Linked DNA regions of Homo sapiens. The protein of the gene in region 2 purifies or fractionates together with the protein of the main gene of each other region. This does not show direct contact. Each region holds a gene or a part of one and is shown on either strand. Other genes may lie near its edges.

Region 1 (7,034 bases), on a different chromosome or scaffold from region 2:
TGGGAAGGTGAATTTTGAAGGGTAACTGTGTCTCATGCATACAAGCTAAACTATTTAGAATTTATCATGTCACATTTCACTTATTTTGAAAACTACTTTAAATATGTACTATTATATAACATGATGAGACACTGTAATGCCTTAGAAAGTGCAGCAATTGTGAAACCATGCTATTACTGGTTGCTTATATCTATCAAAATATTTTTTGAAAATGTTCTATTTTTCCAGGAATCAATACTTACCTGACATACTGCATCATATTTTCTCATAAATACTCCAATGTTTTTTTCATTTCAGATTATTTCTAACAATTATCTATATACCTAAATACATATATTGATTTTATATACATTTTTATGTTTGAAAGCATATCATATATATTGAAATTTATCAAACTACAGTATATAAATTTCTAGGTAATTACTTGCATTTCAAATCTTCCCAAAGAGCTGAAATTCTATAACACTATATTTATACATTTTTGCAAACTACTTATTAAATAAGACTTTCTCTTCATCAAATCATACACAAATATAAAGTCTATCACGCAAAAGTTCCATATTCCCTGGTTCTTCTTAAACAGTAATATAAATAGGCATATAAAATTACAAAAATTAGGATATGTAAGCTTTGCAATGATTTGTTTTCATGGCGTGATCATTTCATTATAGCCTAATGAATTTTGTCACAGTGTCTACAACTAGCAAAAGCAAGTTAAACAAACACACTTGCACAACCAGTAAAGAGGTAAAAAAACACCCTAGACCGTGCAGAAGATGTACAAGACCTCATTTTGGATATTTGATCCACATTACATACAAGCAATATTGTATCAGTACTGCTTTTGGCAAAATTTATCGGTAGTGCTTTATGTTGATGGATGACTTGTGTGCTTTTGGTTTTATTTATTTTTTTGGCCTTCAGCATGCTATTTGTTATTTTTTTCTGTAGGTGACCCCTGAAAGTACGTATGTAAACTGCAGCATAGAATGCAGTCCTAGAATATCTATGGCAGCAAAAGATGAGAGAGAAAAAGAGACAGAGAGAGACAGAGAGAGACAGAGACGGGGAGGAGTGGCGTTTATCTCCCATTATAATCAGTGGTAAAATTTCCTTAAATACATTTTGGCATTCATTTTCCTTTTGAAAACCTTGCTGTGGGGTCTACTTGCCCCTTTCAGAGTACTGCGCAACCTTCGCAAGAGACCATTTAGCACAAGTTTCCACCTTGGAGTAGATCTTCCTACCTTTCCAGTCTTAATTCTGTGTGAAATGGCTGCAAATCGATGGTTGAGCTCTGAGATTTGGGGCTCTACTAATTTCCTGCAGTGGTCACCGCGGTTTGCCATCAAGTTTGCTGCTTGGTCACGTGTAGAGTCCACCTTTGGGCGTATGTCATTCAGTTCTGCCTTTAAACGCTATATTCCATGAGCAAGAGATAGGACTTGAAGTTAGTAATTAATGAAGGTCAAGATAGAAAAAGAGAGCCAAACAGAGCGAGTGAGCAAGTGAGCGAGAAGAGTGAGAAAGAGAGAGAGAGAAAGTAAGAAAATGAGAGCAAGCACATGCAGAAAATACAAAGGGAGATAAAACCACAACTTCCATAAAACAGGACTAAAATGAAAATGCGTGTGATTTCAGAAAAATAGATCACCGTCCTTAAGTTTGATGCATGTCTATTTAAAATGTTTATTTAGTCCGAGGAAGGACAGGGATGTTTTCCCAACTATGTTGTTGCAACTATCATAATATATTCTATTTAGTCTTATTTTATTATATCGTTACTGAATTTAATAGTTGTGGAATGAACTAAGTATGTGCTCAGGAGGTCAGGTAGCTGAAGAACACTTTTCTATTCCTTCCTAGCACTTTCAAGTTCCTCTTTATTACATTGAGTGTCATAAGAAAAAAAGTGATTTTCTAACACATACGAATTTTCTGTCACATACAGAGGTACTGAGGAATGTTCTTCCTGACCTGCCGGGTCACAGAGGTTGAAGTTAAATAACTCAGACCCTATTATTCAAAAAGCCTTGAAGGAAATTCACCATAAGATGACATCTCTGACTATACATCAAGGGATAATGAAGAGCACAATACAGATCCACATCAAAATAAGCTTCAGACAATGGCATAAATGTGTTTTGGGGATAGCCTGGAATGAATTTATAGTTTTTCATTAAAGGTATATCGTAATCTGTGGAAAATATCAGAGGCATAAAAATAAATTGCATAGAAAGAAACATAATTTTTGAGTTTTCTTTAAATAGTAAACAACTAATCAATAAATTTATCAAACATTGCAGCAAAACAAAATAAAAAATGTTTATTGAAAAGAGAGCTGTTAAAATTCAACTCTACCTATTTAATTGGGAAAAGAGACATCATCAAATAGAAACAATGTAGTGTCTATAAGGTATATTTGCGTATTACACCTCTCATACCCTTTTATCGGAATCATTTTTTAAAGAAAAGATTAAGTTCCCCTTGAAAAAGAAGACAGGGCATCCTAACAGTCAGTTTTGAGACTAAAAGAAAGAACCCAAAGCCTAGTTTACATGTAGTTAAAAATGAAAACCTCAGCTTTACATAAGCCCAACATTAAGACTAATTACCAAGATTTGGATATGGCATAGGCAAAAAAATCAGCTGACTGGATTTCAGGTGTTCATTCAGATGGGCTAAATGAATGATAGTGTCAGATTGTTCTTTGTGTTAGACACAAGAATGTAGTACCACCATTGACAAAGGCAGAAATTTGCAATATGATTTCAAAATAAATCTTGGAATATCTTTCTGAACGGAGTTTACATTGGGTATAATTAACTGAGTGATGGATTTGAACAGAAAGTCAGATTACAGAACTCTTCAAAATCATTCATTTCCATTCAAAGGGGGAAGGAAGGAAAAAGGGAAAGATAAAGGAAGGAAGAAAGGATTGTTTTACTCTTATTAAGACGTCCTTAGTATCTTTTAGGACAAAGATGATTGAAGTAACTGGTGTACAATTTGGACATTACTTTTCATATTTTATTTGCTACCTTAAGCACGTCTTCTTTTTGCTGGGGTTTCTTTTTCTCTGATTCATCCAAAAGTGTGTCAGCCTGAATGATCCACTTTGTGATGTGGTCCACATTCTGGTCAAAAGTTTCCATGTGTTTCTGGTATTCCTTAATTGTACAGAGACATACCATGGCATTATTGGTTAGACAATATTCTTAAAGAATTTTTCCTATGTTCTAAAATGTTTAAAAGACAACAATAAAGTTTCATTGAGATTAGTTTTAAGTGGTATTTTCATATAGAATATTGCGTAAATATAAAGAAAAATATATTAAAATATTGTTATAGATATTGAATTAAGAGCCAGCATATACGTAGAATTGAGAAATTTTCAAACACAGAATTGTTACTGGTCACTTATGTATCTTTTTCTCGTGACAGAGAAGGGTGTAAAAGCTTCTAGCCTTTTCTCTTACCAACAAAAGATTTAACCACTCTTCTGCTCGGGAGGTGACAGCTATCCAGTTACTATTCAGAAGACTGAGTTTATCTTCCACCAACGTCTCCTTCTTGCCCAAAACTGTTTTCAAGGCCTCTCCTACCTCTGTGATACTCTTCAGGTGCACCTTCTGTTTCTCAATCTCTTTTTGAGTAGCCTGTGAAAAGGAGAGCATTGACCTTCAAGTAATGTCTTGTAGTCTTAAGATTTAATGCTTATGAAACGGCTTTCTGTATGGTTACTATGATTCTGCAAGGTTTTAAACCTATAACTATGTATTAATGAATCATGAAAACCATACCATATATACTGAAGCTTCATTGTTGGGTAACTATGAACATATATATGTACATAAGCATAATTCATGTCTTATTTTTCATTATAAATATTTAATAAACATACATATTGTTCAACTAAATATATTTATATTTATTTAATTTATACATGTAGTGGCTAAAGGCAGATATTTGAAAATCCATCCACAAATAAGAAACTGCCCTTAGAAAATTCTACAGTATGGTGCTACTGTATTTCTGCAGCAGGGATTTTTTTAGCCTTTTAGTGCCATGGATCTTTTTGGCATCTGTTGAAGCTTAAAAACCCATTCTCATAATAATGCTTTTAAATGCATAAAACAAAATACATAGGATTTTAAATGAAAACAATTATACTGAAATACAATGTGCAACACATTTTTTAAATATTTGTGATGTAGTAATACATGTTTTATTTCCTAATATGTTAATTAACAAGATCTAGCATCAGGTCTTTAGGATAATTTCAATGTAGTGATGACGAGCATAACTGGTATTTTTAAGTATGTACAATGTCTGGAACACGTTATAAAAGTATCTGTCATTTCTATTAGTGACAAAGTCATGGGTATCTCTATTGCTGGAGTTTGTTGCTCACATTTTAACTGAAAAAACTGCTTACTTTTGGTTTTAATTGAATACAAATAAAGATAAAGTTTTCCCCCAATCCAAGTTCACAGACCTTATTTCTATCCACATACCCTAGACTAAAATCTCCTAAGAGAATACCACTATTTCCTAAGAGGTGATTTATAAAACATGAAAACAATCACATTTAACATGAAAAAAGATAGAGAGTAGTGATGGAAAAAGTGATCTTAGTACAAAGGTTTACTACCTGCCCTGCATAAAGCCCCTTTCCTGGTACATGGCACGGCTGACAGACAATGTGGCCACTCGGCATTCCACTGAGTCTGTGCCTGGTTCTTTCCCTGCCTGTCTAGTTAGCCAGCTGTGGGACATTCACAGAGAGCTGAGCCAGAGCCCAACAGACCCTTTTTCTCCTTTCTCAATAAGGTTAACAGATACAGAGACTGTGATTGGCACTCGAGTTGAAAAGCTATTTGCGAGTGGAGCTGATGTCTTAATCACAGAAAGCCAAAGCAAAACAAAATCATTGAGAAACAGCAATAACAGGAAAGTGGAGAAAGTCCAGATACAAATAATCAATTAATAAACACACAAGGAGCAGCTCTGTAATGCCAGCCTACATCTAATTTCTTAAGAAAAAAATTACAGTACAAGAGTAAGAAATTAGGTATAGGCTGGCCTCATAGAGTCACTCTCAACATGTCTTTTCTATCTTTATAATATACCTAAGTAGTCCTGTGGCTGTCTTTCTGCCACGCCATAAGGTCCTGGTCCACTCGAAATCACTTCTCATACTTTCTGTTTTGGTTTTGCCTTTGGCATCGGATAAACAGGAGAAATAAATGAGGAAACAATGTATAAAAATTTTTATGCAAGACAAAAACACTGTTTCTTCAATTCTAAGATATGGTTTTATGTCACATTTTTTCAATAAAAACATGCCTGAAATTAAGGTACTTAATGCCAGATGAACTCGACAGCTATCATGCATGGGGTTCTTCATATGTAGGTGCTATTTGTTGCACACAGGTGAGCTTAGCAATTCATAAAAGCAATTTCTTCATTTATCAATCGTAAGTGTTGCCTGAGCTCCTATTATATGCCAGTTACTACTGTAGCAGAATCATATGTAATTCTCCTCAATATATTCTGGGAGATTATTAGAAGTCTCTCATTTGGGTAGATACAGACCCTTTAGAGCTTAACTTCAGAGTAGACATAGACTAGATTTTATTCCTTTTAATACTTTGACTTCAACCTTTTGTAGTATACAACCTCTACAACCATAGATGTTAGCCATTGTTACTAGGCTCTGTGGGATAAAACGGTAGAGAAGTCCCCATCCTTCAAAAACTTATATCCAAGTATGAGTTTGTCAAAGAGATGGACATATACGCAAATGAGAATTATCTACTTTCTATATTCCAGTCTACTGGCATCTCGCTGTAGTTGATTTATTCACAAAGGTAACCCTTCACAAAGTTGAAGCTTAATTTATATTTGGATTACTAATTATCTCTTAATAAGTCTTCATAAAGATGACACTATATTTTAGCATCAATGTAAAAAGTTATTGTGTACATAGATTTTGTTTCTTACATGACAAGCAATGCAATTAAAGGCAATGGAATTTTCCAAAACTCAGAAGAGATCACAAAAGTTTTGAACTTAGGGGATAATGTTGCAGGTAGTTCCTGGGTCACAGAAACCATTATGTGTCAACATCTGGCCAAATTCCTCCAGCTAATTTAAACAATGTCCAGTGATGTTCAGTTGATGGGAACAAAATAGGAAATGTGGACTAATTTCTAGTGCCTTCTTAAGTTCCACAAAATTATAAATTAAAACTAAAAGATGTTCAATTTATCACCATTATCAACTTGTATTTGAAAAAAGCAGTGATATGATGGTGGTTTATAACTGCTAATGGTCAAAAGTGATTCACAGGACAATTTACACTCTGTAAAAAAAGAGACCTAGAGTTAAACTTTTATGTATGCTATTCAACAATAAGGAACCAGTATTCAATCATTTGTATACATGCTGTTTTGGGTTAGGAAAAAATATTGTGTTAATTTAGTAGGCCTTAAATTTTTCCCTCAAATGTGTTTTTAATCAAAGATATGACTTAAGAAATAAGACTTAAATAAGACTTAGCCTTTAAATACTATGCTGAGCTTGCTTTCTGGAGATCTGAAATACTAATTGACCAATGTATATCAGGTGCCTAATATCCAGTCTGTACTGTGCTATTCACTGCCAGAGATGAGGAATGAGGTAATCTTTGCAAACCTCACTCTAATCATGCCTACAGTGTAGCTGCAGAGGAAAGCTTAAATGCAATAAAACAATTTGATATCATACTAGAAAAAAATCACATTTTTTTTTGGAAACAGATGAGCCATGGCTGGAATAAGCATGAATGACTACAAGGGAAAGGTGACACTTGAAGGCGGAGTGTGCATGGGATGGTTTGGATTGACTAAAGACAAAGTACGAAGCAACGAGAAGGTATGAAAGTTAGAATACAAGGCTGCCATAGAGGAACAGGGAATTCTTACTGTAAACTAAAAGAATACATTTGATGAGGTTGTTGACGAACCATTTTCTCTGGCTCTAATAGTTTC
Region 2 (7,034 bases):
GAATTCAGAAAGCCCCATCCCTCTCACCTCAAAAAAACCAAGAAGAAAAGGATCTCTGCTGACAAAGCCAGGGGGGTATCTTTATCTCAGGGGCCCAGATGTGGGAGAAGGCAGAAGTCAAAGCCCATATGGACCACCCATGGAGCGTTTCATCCGAGGTTAAGAACTGCCCATCCTTTGTTCCGATGCTCAGGTAAAAGGAATTGTTACTGCTAGGCCAGCTCTCTATGGGAGGTGAGGCTGATTGCCAATTTCCATGGTGTAAATACTCCTGCAATGGCCAATTTCAAGCTATTATACCAATAGTGGAGCTGGGGACTCTGCTCTGCTCTGAAGTATAGGAGCAGGGAGCCTGTGTCCCCACACCAGGTCCTGAGCCAGCTGGCCTGCCCCAAGCTGCTTCCCTAAACCCACGGTCCATCTCCAGGGAGGGTGTTTCCTTCCCTCCCTGCAGCTGGCATGGTGACTCAGCTTCCCCTAAATTTAGGAAAAGGGGTGGAGGACAGAGACAGCTGCCCAGGCTCCTCTCCTCCTCGCTGAGCTCCCACCACCCTGTCAGCTGAGGGGCTGGCACAAGGTCCACCCAAATCCACAGTCTCTGGTCCACCCCTGTCTGGGCTCCACCTCCAGAATAAAGTCACCCAACAGGTTTTCCTGCCAAGTTCAGCCACCCTTGTGGAATGGGCATAGGCTTAGACCAGTGGGAAGGGAACCTCGCAGCTGTCTCTCCCAACATGGCCCCAGACATGCTGTCATTTCTTGCCTTTGTCTCCCCAAAAGCTCTTCTGAGTGTCCCACTTTCCTCTCTCCCAAAAGAGAAGCCCACTCTCTGATAGGAAAAGGAGCTTTGTCTCTCAGCACCTACTTCCCATACAGGGCTGGTCCTCAGCAAAGACTAACAGGAAAACTGACTTAGAAGGGGAACCTTGGCCTCCCCGCCCCAGCAGATAGAGCCTAAGGGCTTGAGGATACCCTCTCGGACTCTTTCATGGCCTCTAGGAGCGGGACCTAAGAGGGAATTTGAGTCTACAAAGGCCTCCCTCCAGCCTTCTCCACGTCTCCCCCAAGGAACTAAAGTCTGAGGACAGACAGCACGACAGGCAATTGCAGAGTCTCCTCTGTGTCTAGAAAGTCTGTACTCCAACCCCAAAGTCACCACCTCCTGGAAGCTTTCCCTGACTGCCCTAGGTGGTAAGCTTTGCTTTCCCAGGCTCTGGGATCTTGGTCCCACCTCTGTCACCGTACACATTACTCTCTAATGAAATCATCTGTCTGTGTATCTGTCCGCTCACTAGACTGTAAATTTCTTGAGGGCAGGAATTGCTTGACATTGAACTTTGAAACTTGGTGTCTGGCTTGGTGCCTATCAGACAATGAATGCAGGAAGGGATAACTGGCTAGCATATAGGCTCCTGAGAGCCTCCTCCCACCAGTGAAAGCAACATCTGCTTAGGGGTCATGGCTGGACCTGCACCTCCCCCCAGCAAGACCAAATAAGGAAGGGGTAGAAGGAGTCAGGACTGAATACCTCTTACCTGCTACCCTGTGGGCCACCAGCCCTTCTAAATTCAATGGCTCCTCCTCTGGAGTCCGGGAGGGGTCTGAAGTCGCTTCCTTTGGTGAGAGCAGAGGCTGAGCAGTGAGGCCAGGGAGAGAGGCTGGGGGTTGCTGAGGCCCTGGAGGGCTGTGGGTGGTCGGAAGGAAGGCAGGCAAGGAGGAAGAGGCTGGGCTCTTTGAATGGAAATCCTGGTTAGGCCCAGCCAAACATGGCTGATAGTCATAAGGTGAGTAAGACCTGCCAGGAGGGACAGACTCCAGAGAGGCCCGTGGGGCTGGCTCAGGGGTTCCCAACGAATGCCCACTGGGGATATAGCCAGATCTGGACTGGGTCAGTGGATGGGACTGACGGGAGGATCCAGAGAGGGGCTGGGAGGAGAGTGGAGAAGCCCCTGGCCAGGCCCCGGGGACACTCTGGGACTTGTGTAGTGGGGCAGCAGCGGAGGCTGGCTCCAGGTCCAGCATCAGCATATTGAGTGTTTCGATGGACTGTTCAATCTCCTGCTGGGAGGCTGCTCGCGGGAACTCAGGGAGACTGGGGATGGGGGTCTCTGCCAATGGCTGAGGGCTGGGCCTGCTGGCTACAAGACTCTCCAAGTGGGCTCTTTCCTGCTGGCGTGGAGGTGGGCGAGGCTGCTGCTGCTGCTGCTGCTGCTGCTGCCACGAATTCAGTCCCCTTTGCACAGCCTCCCGGCTGCTTCCCCCTCGGACCGGAGCTGGGGGCAGCTGGGGTTCAGCTTCCGAAAAGGATTGAGAGCGGAACATACCGCTGGGGTCATGGGCATAGTGGGAGGTGGTCACTGGCTGTGGCCAGGCTGGGTGGGGCCCCTCCCTCTGGTAGCCAGCTAAACCCTCCTGTGCAGAGTAGGAGGGCCGCATGGGGGCCGTGTGGCCAGCATGGGCAGGCCCCGCCCGGCTGGCAGACTCGTAGGGGTAGCCTCCTCCATTGACCATAGGCTCCATGGGGTAGGACTTGTCCAGACCGTTGGTCAGTGGGGACAGGGCCTCTGGGTAGCCCCCCTCACTGGTGTTGGTGACCCCGTCCAGAGAAGAGAGTGTGCCCATGCTGCCCGCACTGTGACCATCCTGGTTTGGCAATTCATCGTCCAGGATGTCTGTCTCCCGCTCAGATGCTAACGCCCCACCATTGACATGAACCTGGGCTGGGACAACGTGGCGTCCAGAGGAGGGCACAGCCGAGCCCCCTGCTGGGCGGGACCTGAGGTGCTGGGTGTGGTACATGGCGCCTTGCTTCTCTCGCTCTAAGCCAAAGCCACTCAGCAGGCGGTCCAGCTCCCGCTTCTCCTGGGGACTCAAGGCAGCAGTGGCACTGGAGGCCCCGGGGACAGGCTCGTCGGTCTTGTCGGTCTTGGTGGAGGCTGTGGAGTTGCCCGAGTCGCTGCTCACAGAAAGCGTGTGTTCCACGTGGTTGGGGGTGGCCGACAGTGTAGGACGTGTGGCATTAACAGCCCCGGTGCTGCCGTGCAGGGAGTCTTTCTTCTTCACCTTAGCATACAGGCTCCCATCTAGTGGCCCCTGCGTGTGTCCCACCACCTCTGCAAGGGACAGAGCCGGAGGGGAGACAACAGACAACAGACATTAGCGGGAGGCAGGGGTATCATCCACTCTGCCAGAGAAAGAAGCTAAGAGCTCCCATGCCCTGCATCCTAAAACCTCCTCTCACCACCCTGAGGTGGGGAAAAGGGGAGCTGACAGAAAGACCTCTACCCCAGGCTTTGGGGCAGAGCCTCACCAACACTCAGCTTCAGGGCCGGGCAGTGGAGCCCAACACTGAGCAGGAAGTGCTGGGGGCAAATCGCTCCAGTCCCAAGCCTAGCTCTGGCATTTCACCAGCTTCCTGACCAGAGGCATGAATAACTCTCTGAGCCAGCCTCCTGGTCCATAAAATGGGGATAATAATAGAATCTGGTTGAACCATCTGAAATTGCCAATATTCATTAAATACACTGTGCTTTGAGTTTAAATGAGTTGACACATGACATGCTGAGACCAGTTCCTGGCACGTGATGGGAGTTCAACAGCTGGGAGCCCTAACCATCACCATTATGAGTATCATTAATTCCTGAATGACCATTTCCAAAGCATCCTCAGTCCCCTCCGCCACCCCATCTCAAAAAGTCTCACCCCTGCTTCGATGTCTGGAGTTCCCACTCTGGATTAGAGGCAGAATGCCAGGAGAGTAGCCATTGCCTTGAATGCCCATAGAGGTATCAGCATGGACGGCCAGTCGCCCCGAGGATAGCCTTTGCCCACGGAAGCAGGGGGAGAACCCAGGAGGGCAGTAGGGTGCAGCAAAGGGCCCCACCATGCCCAAGGTGGTGGTGGCAGGGAGGCTGAAGGCAGAGCTGGGACTCTCTAAGACAAGCTTGCCCTCAGCTAGATTTGTCTCCAGCTCAATGCAAAGGATGTGATAGAACCATTCAGAGATACAATGTCATTCATGCTGCCCACTGCCACATTTCCAGAGGCTCCTCCCAGCTCCTCCCCAGCACTGCCCACTCCTGATGGACCCCTACCCCTCCACCAGCAAGCTCAGCCCATACCACTCAAGACTCCAGGAAAGGGACGCGGGTCCTGGGAAGGTATGCCGGGCAGGATCACAGCAGGTCTGCAAAGACGAGCATCCTGATCCCACTGCTCTGAGCCAGCCCGGGGGCCCCTGAAGAACAGGCCAAGGTGGGGCTCAGCCAAGCCAACAGTCCCTGTGCCAGAGGGGACACGCTTTTCCTATGCTGGAGGATGGGGGGCATATAGGGTGCTGATGCAGGGGGTTCAGGGACTAGGGCAGGAGGGGAAGCGTCTTAGGGATCGTGAACACAAAAACAAGATGTCTTCATGGGGGAGAGGGTCCTCTTGTCTGCAGACAGCTCTGAGGACCCCCCTGAGCAACACTTTCTCTGGAAGGAAAAAGTGAGCGCTGGGTGGCTCGGGGCCAAAGGGCTGACTCAGGAATGAAGAACTTCCCCGCCCAGAGGAACTCAGTGATTTCACACCCTGTACAGTCAGCAGCCCAGCCACCAGCCCCGACAGACACACACACACACACACACACACACACACACACACACACACGCACGCACGCACCTCCCCTTACTCTAATCCAGGCTCTCCGTTAGCAAGGAAAAAAGCCAGCTCCCAAAGACTGCACCAGCTCCAGCCAGACACCAGCAGTCACACACCGAGCCAGACAAAAAGACAGTAAGAGATCACCCAAATCAGAAACACCCAGGCATGAGCACACACTAGGTGCCACACAATGCCAAGAACCACAGTCAGACAGCACCGGCATGAACATGTACACACAAATACCAACAACAGTGACCACCGTGCAGTGAGCACAGCGCAAACGCCAACACTTCGCCAGGCACTCTACACGCACATCCTCTCTAGCCATCGCCTCCGAGCCAGACAGTATTACACCCATCACAGTAAGGGAGAAACTGAGCCTCTGAGAGGGGAAACCATTTATGTGCCAACAATGCTACCTGATAAAGCCAAGATTTAAAATCAGAGCTAATTTCCTTCAAACAGTATGTAATTTTTATTATGCTACACCTCCCTCATATCACAAACACACACACACACACATACACACAAATTAGAATAAACACATAACAGGCAGGAATACCCCCAAATAAATACTTAAAGCCACAAATATTTCAGAAAATACAAATGTTCCTACCATGCCCAAGGATCAGCCCTTAGGCCAGAAGTGGCAGCCTCTAAAAATAAACACTCTGACAGAAGCCCATGGCCAAAAACAAGTGATCAGACAACCACAAAACAGGAACATCCCAATCAACATACACACACACAGACCACAGGCCAGCCATGTTACAACACAGAGAACTGGCACAAAGATGCTCCACCAGGCACTTGCATCCCTCTACACACACACACACACACACACACACACACACACCCCAGGGACTGGATGCCCTCCTCATTTACTGACCTCTCCAGATCCACCCCTCTGCCCCCAGTTTTCCCCAAGGCTTTGGGACCTCAGCCAACACCAGCCCCAGACAACACAGGACCAAAGTATTGCAGCAGCCCAGGGCCCAGGGCCCAGGGCTGGTCTGAACTGAAAAGGGGTTTTGGCTAAAATACATTCTGAATCTCCACCAACCTGGCCCTGTGCCTAGACCCCTAAAGGCTGCTAAGATGCAGGACCAGGCACAGCTGCCTCTTCCAACCCCCTATTATCATCGTAAAGGGGTCCTCTCCCTGTAGGATGAGGGAGGCTGACCTTCATGCCCACTCTCTCCAAAGAACTGAGCTCCTTGCTACACATAAAAGAAGAGACCTCAGCCTGGCATGGTGACTCATGCCTGTAATCCCAGCACTCTGGGAGGCTGAGGCAGGTGGATCACCTGAGGTCAGGAGTTGAAGACCAGCCTGGCCAAAATGGTGAAACCCCACCTCTACTAAAAATACAAAAAATTAGCCAGGCGTGGTAGCACATGCCTGTAATCCCAGCTACTCGGGAGGCTGAGGCAGAAGAATCACTTGAACCTGGGAGGCAGAGGTTGCAGTGAGCCGAGATCGCACCATTGCACTCCAGCCTGGGTGACAGAGCAAGACTCCATCTCAAAAAAAAAGAAGAGACCCCAGCCGCCTGTTTCTAGGGGGCAAAGCACTGAAGACAGGAGCCTCTGATGCACTCATAGCTCTGGGGTGGTTCTCTTGAGGATGGGGCCCCTTGGACAAGTTGGCCGAAATCTGAAGAGCTGGCTTTCCTTCTCACTGTCCCTAGAAAGCTGCAGGCCCCCTCCTGAGCCAGGGCACCCCCTCTGCCACCTACACTGTGAGGTGCCAGAATTTCCCTCCTGGGCCAGTGATCCCCTCCATCCTTTGTGCCTCCTCATCCCCCACGTTCATGCTCATGTGGTCTGAGAAGTGGGGAGCTGCAAAGCAAAGGCTGGTGTGTCCAGTGGCTTCCCCACTTAGACATGTTCCACAGTGAGAGCCATGGGGGCAAATTCAAATCAGAAAGCACATAGGCCCCTGCAGCATCTCAGTCATGACTAACAGAAAAACTATGAAGGCATCCCCCAGGCAGGAGAGAGAATTGACTACCTGATATCTCAGCCCTTCCTTGCCCCTGTGGCCAAGCCCCACTCAGCATCGATTTTGAAAATGTCAATGTTAAACTTGTTCTGTCATGTAATCTATCCCCAAGTGGGCTCCTGTTTGCAGCAACAACATCAGGAACAATCATAGCCAAGCCACTAAGGCATAGTAAGAAAATCGAACAGATGCAAATTGTTTAATTAACTCCTGTTCGCTAACTACAAATGGAAATGTCTCTTGGCCCCAGATTGCACCCTCCAGGCCACTCAGCACCTTTGCTGAGTTGTCCTCTTCCTATCCAAGGGAGGTTTTGAGAATACCCAGGCTGATCCCAGGCCTGTCCAGCCCTGATGAGGACTCTGCTGAAACCCCAGCATAGCAGC

What was found.
Region 1: the proteins of TNS1 (region 2) and DMD purify together in Homo sapiens (co-immunoprecipitation; 2 studies listed by BioGRID and IntAct, with this or other methods). This does not show direct contact.

What each region holds. Positions count from the first base shown.
Region 1 is NC_000023.11:32,361,541-32,368,574, forward strand, and holds part of DMD (dystrophin), read right to left. Parts: intron 3,660-7,034; coding exon 3,480-3,659; intron 3,171-3,479; coding exon 3,042-3,170; intron 1,419-3,041; coding exon 1,248-1,418; intron 1-1,247. UniProt on the Homo sapiens protein: Anchors the extracellular matrix to the cytoskeleton via F-actin. Ligand for dystroglycan.
Region 2 is NC_000002.12:217,845,975-217,853,008, forward strand, and holds part of TNS1 (tensin-1), read right to left. Parts: intron 4,215-7,034; exon of another isoform or gene 3,887-4,214; coding exon of another isoform or gene 3,703-3,886; intron 3,114-3,702; coding exon 1,536-3,113; intron 1-1,535.